3 linked regions of the Homo sapiens genome follow. The protein of the gene in region 1 interacts with the protein of each later gene in a pairwise test. Each region holds a gene or a part of one and is shown on either strand. Other genes may lie near its edges. The genes, in order: CCM2L, USE1 and CAMK2B.

Region 1 (3,744 bases):
AGCGTTTGAACATTGAACTTGCTATGTACTAAGTGCTGTTCTATAAAGCACTTTATTTTTTCATCAACATAGTAACATTACAGCAGCTACTGTTTATTGCTTATAGCCCATAATTCTAAGTGTTCTACAAATATTAACTCCTCTAATTCTCATGATGACACTAATTATTATTATCCCATTATACAGATGGAAAAATTGAGAAATAGAGAAATTAAGTTTAGTTTTCCCAAGGTCAAGCACCTAGTAAGTTGTAAGTATGGGATTTGAACAGAAGAAGGCTGGCTCCAGAATCCAGTCCTTTAACCACAAAGCTACACGGCTTCTTTGTAGGTAATAATGGAGGATGGTTCTGGAACAATTTAGAGACAAGGAGGCAGGAGCCTAAGGTTGAGTTTTTATTAAGCAATATTTCTTGAGTACCTCCTATGTGCCAGGCACTCTGCTGTGTGCTGGGGATACAGATGGACACAAGACAGAGGGCAAAACCTGGGCCTGGCACATAGTAGGTGTTCAACAAATGAAGAAAACCAAAGTCCCTGCTCTTGTCAAGTTTACAGTCTAGGATAGGAGGCAATGAAATCGCAATTTAACAGTAACAATCATTAATGGTAATAAGTACTAAAGGGAGGCTCAGGGTGCTATAAGAGAGGCAGAGGGGGACCGCAACTCAGCTGGAGAGTCAGGAGGGCCTCTCAGAGGTGATGGCACATGAACTGAGGCTTGGAGGATGAAAGGGGGAAGAGTGTTCCAGGTAGAGGGAACAGCAAATGTAAGAATCCTGAACTAACCAGGCGTGGTGGCTCACGCCTGTAATCCCAGCATTTTGGGAGGCTGAGGTGGGCAGATTGCTTGAGGTGAGGCATTTGAGAGCAGCCTGGACAAACATGGTGAAACCCTGTCTCTACTAAAAATACAAAAATTGGCTGGGTGGCACATGCTTGTAGTCCCAGCTACTCAGGAGGCTGAGGCATGAAAATTGCTTGAACCCGGGAGGCGGAGGCTGCAGTGAGCCAAGACCGCACCACTGCACTCCAGCCTCAGTGACAGAGCAAGAATCTGTCTCAAAAAAAAAAAAAAAAAATTTTGAACAGGATAGAGCTTAGTGGGTTTGAGGGGCAGCAGGTGGCCACTGTGGCTGTGGCAAATGGTGTGAGGGAGAGAGTGGTCAGAGAGGATGCTTGGGGGTACCTGGAAAGGCCATGCATGTCACAGGTAGGCCATGGACTGAGGGAGCATGTTCGACAGAGGTTCTAACCCAACCTAGGGGAATTAGGGAACACTCTCCTGAGGAGATGACATTTAAGATCACGGGATGAGTAAGAGTTAGCTGTGCAAAAGGGAGGGGAAAGGAGGCAATCCAGGCAGAGGGACCAGCAGGTGCAAACACCCAGAGGTGAGGAGATAGTAGAGGAAGAAGGAGAAGGGGGGTGGGGGGCGCGAAGCACAAAGAGCAAAGGCAAAGGCAAGCACAGTGACAGATGAGACTTGAGAGGTGCCAGGGGCCAGGGTATGCGAGGCCTTGGAGGCCAGCATGCAGTCTAGGATGAGGCCTCCTACCTTCAGCCTGCCTGAGGGCCAGGAGCTGGAGGGAGGCGAGTGAAGGCCCTTCTTCCCGTGCCTGCAGTAATGGCTCCCAGGACACCTTTGAAGCATGTTACAGCGGCACGTCCACACCTTCTTTCCATGGCTCCCACTGCAGCGGCAGCGACCACAGCAGTCTGGGCTTGGAGCAGTTACAGGATTACATGGTCACGGTGAGCTGGGGCCGGTGGTGGGAATGGCACAAGCAAAAGCCTGGAGGCTGGAGTAAACATTTTGGGAATGGCACATTGCCCTGGACATAACCTAAGCAGAAGACATCAGAGGTCAGAGCAGGAAATGAGGTTAGGAGAGTAAACTGAGGCCAGCTTGTGAAAGGCCTTAACTAATGTCAGCTGGCATTAATTGAGTGCCTGCTGTATACCAGGCACCATTCTAAGCACCTTTCATGCATTATTTCTTTTAATCTTTTCAACAACCCCAAGAAGAAAATACCATCATTATCCTCACTTTGCAGATGAGAAAAGCAAGCATCATGGAGGTTGTCACCTACCCAAGATCACAGAGCTGATCCAGTGAAGGGGTCAAGATTTGCACTCAGGCAGCTTGAGTCCACATCCTATTCTTAAATGCAGCCTAAGGGATCTAGATGTCCTCTGAATAGCCCATGGGAAGGTTTTCAGAGGAGAGCTGGACCAAACATGCCCTTAGGGAAGGCTCTGGGCCTTTCAGGCAGGGGTTGGGTGGCGCTGCTTCCTGGGATTGATCTCGAATGGTGTCCCCCACATAGTTGCGGAGTAAGCTGGGGCCCCTCGAGATCCAGCAGTTTGCGATGCTGCTGCGGGAGTACCGGCTGGGGCTGCCCATCCAGGACTATTGCACAGGCCTGCTGAAGCTCTACGGAGACCGGCGCAAGTTCCTCCTCCTTGGTGAGCCCCCGCTGTACCCCCAGAGGTCAGCTAGGGCCCCTGCTTGGTCCATGCCATCCCAGTCAGGCACCAGGCTGCAAATGTTTTCTCCTTATCTTTCAGCCTCTGATGAAACCCAGATCATGAGATTCACAGGGCAGATGAGGAGCCCAAAGTGCAGAGTAGGGAAAGGACTTGTCAGAGCTGGGAGACACTGTTGATAAGAAGAACTAAGCAGTGGTGTGGCCATTTCATCCTCACAGCAAAGCTGCGAGAGGGACTGATTCTTCCCATCTTACCCCACACGGAAGCTGAGGCTCAGAAAGGCTAAGGAACATGTCCAAGGTCACACAGCTAGTAAGGAGGGCTAATAATAACAGGAGGAATAATACGAATAAGCTGACATGTGCTTGGCAGTTACCCTGTGCCAAGCATCATCTCATTAAATGCCCCCAGTTCTGAGAAGTAGATACTATTAATGGTCCCCATTTTGCAGGTGAGGAAACTGAGACTCAGAGTTACAAAGTAAAGGACTGAGGTCACATAGCTAGTAAGTAGGAATGGAAATAAAACAAACTGTTTACAGAGTGCTCAGTATGTGCTGAGTACCTTGTTATTTAATCCTCACATCCCTACCCAGAGAACAGGTGCAATTATCTGTTTTACAGGTGAGGAAAATGAGGTTCAACATAATTAATCAATGGGAATATAATGATGGTACTAATAATAACAAAAATAGGCCTGGCGAGGTGGCTCACACCTGTAATCCCAGCACTTTGGGAGGCTGAAGCTGGCGGATCACCTGAGGTCAGGAGTTCAAGACCAGCCTGGCCAACATGAAACCCTGTCTCTACTAAAAATACAAAAATTAGCAGGGCGTGGTGGTGTGCGCCTGTAATCCCAGCTACTTGGGAGGCTGAGGCATGAGAATCTCTTGAACCCGGGAGGCAGAGGCTATAATAATAATAATAAAAGTACAGTAATCTAGTATGTAGTGAGCATTCACTGTGTGCTGAGCGCTGTGTCGTTATTCGCTGGCTCAGACAGTTAAGGACCTTGGGCAAGGCCACACAGCCAGTGAGTGACAGCAGGGATTTGCACCCAGATCTGCAGAGAGGACGCTTCCCCTGTGGAAGGGAAAGGGAACGTGTCCTGGGGACTCACCATGCCCCTCGGCTCGCAGGGATGCGGCCCTTCATCCCGGACCAGGACATCGGCTACTTCGAGGGCTTCCTGGAGGGCGTGGGCATCCGCGAGGGCGGCATCCTCACTGACAGCTTCGGCCGCATCAAGCGCA
Region 2 (3,744 bases), on another chromosome or scaffold:
TGATCCTCCACCAAACAGGGAGCTCCCAGCAGAGCCTCACTTGGCCAGGAGCGCCTGCTGTCCTGGCAGCCCTCTCTGGCCTCCCTGATTCAGTGCCCAGCCTCTGGAGCCTAAATGTCAGCTGCAGCAGCCACCCATCCAGCAGAGGTGGCCAGTTCCTGGTGGGCCCAGCAGGACAGGAACAGATGGGCTCCCAGGCTGCCATCGGATGGGAGTCGTGGGAACTGGCTGGCTGGTATTGGTTGGGGCACCGTGAAGAACCCAAGTTCAGACAGCACATGCCAGAGGTTGAGGGGCTTCTCCAAGGCCACACAGTTGGGAGGGGCATGGCTGGGATTTAGACTCTGCCCTGCCAGCCTCTAGAGGCCCCTTTGATGGGCCCTGGGTTTGGTCTCCATTGTTTGTTGTGGGTTTTTTTCTTGAAACACGGTCTCGCTCTGTCACCCAGGCTGGAGTGCAGTGGCGCGATCTCGGCCCACTGCAGCCTCCACCTCTCGGGTTCAAGCGATTCTCCTGCCTCAGCCTCCCGAGTAGCTGGGATTACAGGCACGCACAACCAAGCCCAGCTAATTTTTGTGTTTTTTGATAGAGACAGGGTTTCACCATGTTGGCCAGGCTGCTCTCCAAACTCCTGACCTCCAGTGATCCATCCACCTCACCCTCCCAAAGTGCTGGGATTACAGGCGTGAGCCACCGCACCTGGCCCTCCATGGTATTTTCTTTTTTTTTTTTTTTTTTTGAGACGGAGTCTTGCTTTGTTGCCCAAGCTGGAGTGCAGTGGCACAATCTCGGCTCACTGCAACATCCACCTCCTGGGTTCAAGCGATTCTCCTGCCTCAGTCTCCCAAGTAGCTGGGATTACAGGCACCCACCATCACGCCCGGCTAATTTTTGTATTTTTAGTAGAGACGGGGTTTCACCATGTTGGCCAGGCTGGTCTCAAACTCCTGACCTCAGGTGATCCATCTGCCTCAGCCTCCCTAAGTGCTGGGATTACAGGTGTGAGCCACCGCACCTACCCGTCTATGATATTTTTCAAGGACATCAGGCCCACTGGTGTAACCAAGGTGCAGATGACCTAAGGTGTGGGAAAACATGAAGGCTGCATGCCAGGCCCTGGTTCCTGTGAAGCCCCCACCCTCATCCTGTCACTCCAGAAGAGAGGCACTGCAAGGCATAGGGGTACTCAGCTTCCAGGTACTGAGGTGGGCTGGGAAGGGGTTCTCCATGGGGGTCTGGGCGTTAGGGGGGACCCAGCCCCACCTTGCTCACTCTCAGGCAGAGCTGTCTCATGTGCCCCTTGAGGCAGGTACTGTCACACTGTCCATTTCCCGGGGGAAGAAGCGGATCCAGAAAAGTTAAACTCTCCCAGGGCCGAGGATGGAATCAGAGCTGGAGCTGTGACCTGGAAACCCATAACCACAATACAGATGAGCCCTGCTGAGGTGGGGGAAGCCTTGGATTCCTGAATCCCAGGCTACAGAAATCGGGAAGGGTGTGTGGACGTGAAATAGCTCCGACTGGGAAGAATCCAGGTAGGAGTGGGGTGCGGGGAGGTACTTTGAGCAGGCAAAACAGAACAAAAGGGCACACTGCACGCGGGTCTGACACCAGAAGACCCCGGTCGTCCTATCATTCCCGAAGGGTTAACATGCTCTCGAGGAAAAGCAAGTGATTCGCCTAAGTAAGAATGGGGTGGCGCCTCTCCTATTTTTTTAAAATAGAGATAGAGTAGCGCTATCTTGCCCGGGCTGGCCTCAAGCAATCCTTTCCCACCTCTGCCTCCTAAAATGCTGGCATTACAGCCCTGAGCCACCGCGCCCGGCCCAGCGCCCCGTCTCAAAACAAGATATTACTTCCGCTCCAAACAAAGATGGGCCAGCTAACGAGCGCGGGGGAAACATCCGCCCGGAAGGCCACTTGAAGGCACTTCCGCCCTCTCTTAACATGGAGCCGGCGGAAGGGGTGGTGTAGGGCCGGGCGATAATGGCGGCGTCGAGGCTGGAGCTAAACCTGGTGCGGCTGCTATCCCGCTGCGAGGCGATGGCAGCGGAGAAACGGGACCCGGACGAGTGGCGCCTGGAGAAGGTGAGGGGATCTCGCACTGCCGCGTAGAGCCCGACTCCCGGGGGGTGATTCCTAGGGTTGGAAGCCACCTGGCCCGACTCCCCGGCCCCAGTAGCCTCTCGGGCAGCGCCCTTTCCGGTCAGTCCCGCCACGTCCACCTGTAGCTTCCGCCCCCGTCCCTGGGACTCCGCCCCTCCCCCACTGGCCCCGCCTCCTTTACGCTTGACCCCTCCCATTTGTCGGCCCCGCCCCCCCGACTCCCATGATCAGGACATGGGAAAGACCCCCGGGTGACAATCCACTTTTCCTCCCCAGTACGTGGGAGCCCTAGAGGACATGTTGCAGGCCCTGAAGGTCCACGCGAGGTGAGTGCAGGCAGCCTCAGGGCTTTCACATCAGCACGTGGCTGTGCTACTGGACATCCCAGTACCGCTATCCCAGCTGGGACCCTTCCCTGAGCTGGGGACCATGGACAGGTTTTGTTTTTCTTCTTCCTGCCTTCCAGCAAACCGGCCTCTGAGGTGATCAATGAATATTCCTGGAAGGTGGATTTTCTGAAGGGGATGCTGCAAGCCGAGAAGCTGGTGAGAAGGGGTGCCCCTGCCCCCTCAGCCCCCATCACCGCTCACTTTGGTCCCCAGGACCTGCCCCTCCAGTGACTTATCTTCCCACATTTCTGCAGACCTCCTCCTCAGAGAAAGCACTGGCCAACCAGTTCCTGGCCCCTGGCCGTGTGCCAACCACAGCCAGAGAGCGAGTGCCCGCCACAAAGACGGTGCATCTGCAGTCACGGGCGCGGTACACCAGCGAGATGCGGAGTGAGCTACTAGGCACGGTAGGGCTCCTTCCCTGGTCCCTGGGAATCCCTTGGACAGGAATAGGGGTTCTATGCTTGTAGGCAGCCAGAACCACAATACTGTCAGATACAGGAACCCTAAGGGGGTCCAGCAATCTCTTCCCTGGGTCATCACACAAGGCTGCCCAACAGAGGGGCATTGTGGCTAAGGCTTTGCTAGATGAATAGGAATTTGGTACAAGGCAAAAATGGAATGTGTCTGGTTAAGCCCCAGAGTTGGCCCAAGAGCAGGGTTTGAGTCCTGGCTTGCAACTTACAAGACACATAAGTTTCTTCAGCCGTAAAAGAGGATGACAAGTTCCTTTCTGAGCACTTTATGTGGATCAGCTCAATCTTTTAAAATATGAGTTGTTGTGGCCAGGTGCGGCAGCTCACGCCTGTAATCCCAGCACTTTGGGAGGCCGAGGCGGGCGGATCATTTGAGGTCAGGAGTTAAGACCAGCCTGACCAACATGGAGAAACCCCGTCTTTAGTAAAAATACAAAATTAGCTGGGCATGGTGGCTCACGCCTGTAATCCCAGCTACTCGGGAGGCTGAGGCAGGAGAATCGCTTGAACCCAGGAGGCAGAGGTTGCGGTGAGCTGAGATCAAGCCATTGCACTCCAGCCTGGGCAATAAGAGTGAAACTCCGTCTCAAAAAAAAAAAATATGAGTTGTCGTTACCAGTTTAAGGTTGAGGAAACAGGCTCAGAGGTCATGGGATTTCCCCATGTCCTGACTGAAGGTGAGGAGGTTGAGGTCAGAAGGGACAGGTTTGGGAACAAGACAAGGGGGGTGACTTCATGGCATTTACTTTTTTTTTTTTTTTTGCGATGGAGAT
Region 3 (3,744 bases), on another chromosome or scaffold:
TTTGGAGAAGACCAGGGACACCTGCTGTGAGGGCCTCTGTGCTTCTGAGCGCAAGCAGAAAAGACAACAAGAAGGCTCCTGAGGAAAGACTGACTTCCCACTGTTGCTCTCTTCCTCAGAGAACCAGGCACATTAACTGCCACCCACCTGCCCCTCCAGTGGCCAGGACACCTCTGGAGGCCAAGAGGACAGACGGGGGTAGATCGGTGCATCTGAGGGGTGAAGACCGGGGAGCCAGCCACCCACTCAGGGATCCGCATGAAGGGGGCTGGGCTCGCCCTCTCCCTCGAGGTCTCAGCCCTGTGGTGCTCTCCAGATCCACCCAAGGAAGGGTCCCCCAGCCAGCCTGGCCCCCCACCCCACCCATCCAGCATGGGCTTCTTGCAGGGCTGGGCTCCACATCCCTAACCCCTACCAGAATTCTCTCCACACGTGCAGGGAGAAGTGGGGAATGAACACACCCCCACACTCCTCCAGCTCCGCACTCCACAATTATCAATGATCAGCGTCCCTCACCCACCACAAGGTTTCACCAGACACTTATTTAGTAAAGGAAAAAAAGGATCTGTTGCTGGATGTGTAAGAGGAAATCTCGCCAGCACCGCCAGCGCCCCCACCGCCTGCACTGAAGGGACGGAGGAGGATGGGGGAGGACGCAGGAGGATGGGGCTCTGGCCCAGTCAGGCTGGAGATTCAGGAGTTCTGAAGCTAGCCCTAGGGATGCCAGGTGCAGCCACCTTGATTCTCAGAACGGGAGACCCCAGGCCAGACAGGAGGCCCCTGAGGCGCTCCCCATCTCACCCCAGGGGCAAAGCCGGGTCCGGGGACCACGAACCAGACCTTCGCCCTACACTGCTCATACTGCCAAGGAGAGAACGGGAGCCACAGCACCTGTTCCCCGTGAGGTCCCACTTCAAACAAACCTTCAAAGCCCCTTCCCCTTTAGGGCGCCCCCGCCAACAGTCCAAAATCCAGCCCCCATCCACCTCGATGACCCTGAAATTTGCAATCCAGTCAGGCTCTTAGTCTCTCCCCGCTATCCCCATGACCTGATCCAGGCTCCCTGACCTCGTCCTCCCCACACCTCCAAATTCCTGTTTCCAGAAGAATCTGGGGGAAAATCCTCCAGAACCCAGATTCCCCAGGGGACCTACAGCAGAGGCTCTCCCACGCCGGCACCCCCAGCGCGGATGGGGCCACGCGCAGGAGCAGGCGCAAGCAGGTCCCGCCACCCCCGCCGCCTGCCGCTCGGGTGGGGGTGGGGACAGCGCACCCGCGTCGGGGACGACCCTCTGGGGCCGCAGCCGACCCCTCCCGGCGCTCCAGGCCCGGGGGCCACCCCCGCGCGCCCCTCCTCTCTGACCTCCCCGCCGCCAAATGCGTCACGTCTGCCGGGCGCTCCGGGGACACCTGCTGCCGCCCCCGCCGCGCCAAGTCGCGAGCCCGGAGCCCCGGCCCGGCAGCCGCGCTGGGCAGAGCTGGGCAGGGCCGCGCGCGCTGAGGTCAGGCAGCCAGGCCCGGGGCCGGGGGCTCGCGGGTCGGGGCCGCGCGGGGCCGTGCGCTTGGGCCCGGAGCCCAGAGAAGCCGGCGGCGCGCGGGCCCGCAGTGCGCCTGGAGCCGGCGGCGCGGAGGGTCCCGGAGGTCCCGGCCCTCTGGGGTCCCCGGCCCAGCCCGCGCGCGCCGCTGCTCTTACTTGCCAATATCCTCGTAGAGCTGGTACTCGTCGGTGAAGCGGGTGCAGGTCACCGTGGTGGCCATGGCGGCGGCGGACGGGCTCGGCGTGCGCTCGGCTGCGCTCGGGCGGCGGCGACTCCGGCTCCCGCTCGCGGGCACGGCGGCGACACGGGCGCGGGCGCGGGAGACACCTCGGCTCGCGGCGCCAGGCGGGGGCCGGGCTGGGCTGCGCCGGGCGGCGAGCGCACGCGAGATCTGCTCGCTCCGTCCTCGCCAGGAGCGCGCCGCACACCTACGCGCGGGGAGGCGCGGGCGCCGCTGTCACCGCCGCCGCCGCCGCGCCCGCCCCGCCCGCCGCCCCCTGCACGCGCCTTCCCCGCGCCCTGCACACGCTGCTCCTGCACCCGCACCCGCAGGGCACCGGCGCCCTGCATCTGCACACGCGCCCTGCACACACACCCTTGCCCCGCACCCGCAACGCACCTGCACCTGCACCTGCACTCACACGCGCGCCCGCCCCCGCCCGCCCCCGCACCCCACACACACACCCGCGCCCTGTACTGACGCCTTCATCCTCTACCCGCACCACGCCCGCACCTCGCGCACGCAGGCCACTTGCTGCTGCCGACCCCTCGCTCTCACATAACACAGAAGAGTGCACATAATGAACGCAGCCTCCTCTCTCTCTCTCGAAGGCCCACCTAGCCTGACAGCAGGAGGGGACTGGGGCCCACATGGAGGTAGAGGGCTCATGTGCTGCCCTCCACAGGACTCATTCCTCACACCCTCAGGAAGAGATGCTGCCAGATCCCTTCTGCCCAGTCTCCATCAGCCACACATGCCCCAAAGGCTGCCTGGCCAGGAGGAACCGCCCAGAAGGCAGTGTACACACTGGGTCACTAGCATGAGAAAGTGAAAGGGTGGGGCCTGCCCCCTCCCCTTGGCCCCAGCCCCTCCCTTCCCCCTCACTTCTCCAAAGACTGGTTGCTGGGTTGTCTGGAATGGAGGTCCCAGGAGGCAACATTCGGAGTCCAGACCAACGGACCCTGAGCCAGGGGAACAGGGGCTGCTCCACCAGCAATTTGGGGGGCCTGAGAGCTCACAGCCACCCTGATCAGGTAAAGGTGCACATTCTCTCCTTTTCCAGCACGGTCCACCTGCCTGCCCCCTGCTTTTGCCTGGAGGAGGAGGGCCCACACACCCCAACCCCCTCCTGAAAGCAGCCAAGGAGGAGGAGAGTGCAGGGAGGCAGGCAGGAGGCAGGGCGACCCGGTTTCCCACAAAACAGCCTTCCCTGAGGCCTGGCACCAGGGCTGCTGTCCAGAACCGGGACTTTAGACCACTGGGCTCCAGCATCCCCACACTCTTCTCTGACGGGGTCCATCCTGGGCAGGCTCTGAGGAGGGGGTTTCCAGCAGCCAGCTCTGGATTTGGGTCACGCTGCTGCCCTGATATGACTTCCTTACTGCTCCCCAAGGACCAATTCTGGGCCTATCCTGCTCATCCCTCTCACCTCGTGGCCAGCCCAGGGCAAGCCCCAGAAGCCACAATAAATGTCATGTGGATAAGGGAGGGGATAAAGGCATTCTGAGTGCTGGCAGCCAGGGCCCTTCTGGGCCAGGATGCATTTGGCATGGGACTGCTGGGCAATTAGTAGACCACACGGCAACAAGTCCCTGCCATCGACCCACCTGCACCCAGAAGACACTAGAGGACGAGAAATTCTCAGGCCAAAGGCAAATGCTGGGCCACCTGGGGAAGTCCCCAGCTGAGGAAGCAGAGGGATCCTGGCCTTGACTTCAGCAGGACCATAGCAGGAAGGGAGACCCCGTCTATGTCAGACTTGGACTCAGAGAATCCTGGGCCATCCTAACAGACAGACTGGCATGGGCTCGAGAAAGGACTGGAGGCCAAGTCTGAGGTTTGTTCTTGGCGTTGTGTTTAACCCCACAGGAGTTTCTTCCAGCACCTGCTGGATGCATCCATATTTTCCCTTTCTGAGCTCTGGAAAGACGAGGTAGGGCCACACAACAGAATACAAATAACAAGCCAAGCACGGTGGCTCACGCC

Evidence for each region.
Region 2: the proteins of CCM2L (region 1) and USE1 interact in binary tests that used the Homo sapiens proteins (3 or more experiments, as listed by UniProt).
Region 3: the proteins of CCM2L (region 1) and CAMK2B interact in binary tests that used the Homo sapiens proteins (3 or more experiments, as listed by UniProt).

What each region holds. Positions count from the first base shown.
Region 1 is NC_000020.11:32,027,371-32,031,114, forward strand, and holds part of CCM2L (cerebral cavernous malformations 2 protein-like), read left to right. Parts: intron 1-1,624; coding exon 1,625-1,754; intron 1,755-2,329; coding exon 2,330-2,468; intron 2,469-3,552; coding exon of another isoform or gene 3,553-3,630; coding exon 3,631-3,744.
Region 2 is NC_000019.10:17,213,420-17,217,163, forward strand, and holds the start of USE1 (vesicle transport protein USE1), read left to right. Parts: upstream 1-1,937; 5' UTR 1,938-1,986; coding exon 1,987-2,088; intron 2,089-2,382; coding exon 2,383-2,432; intron 2,433-2,572; coding exon 2,573-2,651; intron 2,652-2,749; coding exon 2,750-2,902; intron 2,903-3,744.
Region 3 is NC_000007.14:44,323,664-44,327,407, forward strand, and holds the start of CAMK2B (calcium/calmodulin-dependent protein kinase type II subunit beta), read right to left. Parts: upstream 1,932-3,744; 5' UTR 1,759-1,931; coding exon 1,694-1,758; intron 1-1,693. UniProt on the Homo sapiens protein: Calcium/calmodulin-dependent protein kinase that functions autonomously after Ca(2+)/calmodulin-binding and autophosphorylation, and is involved in dendritic spine and synapse formation, neuronal plasticity and regulation of sarcoplasmic reticulum Ca(2+) transport in skeletal muscle.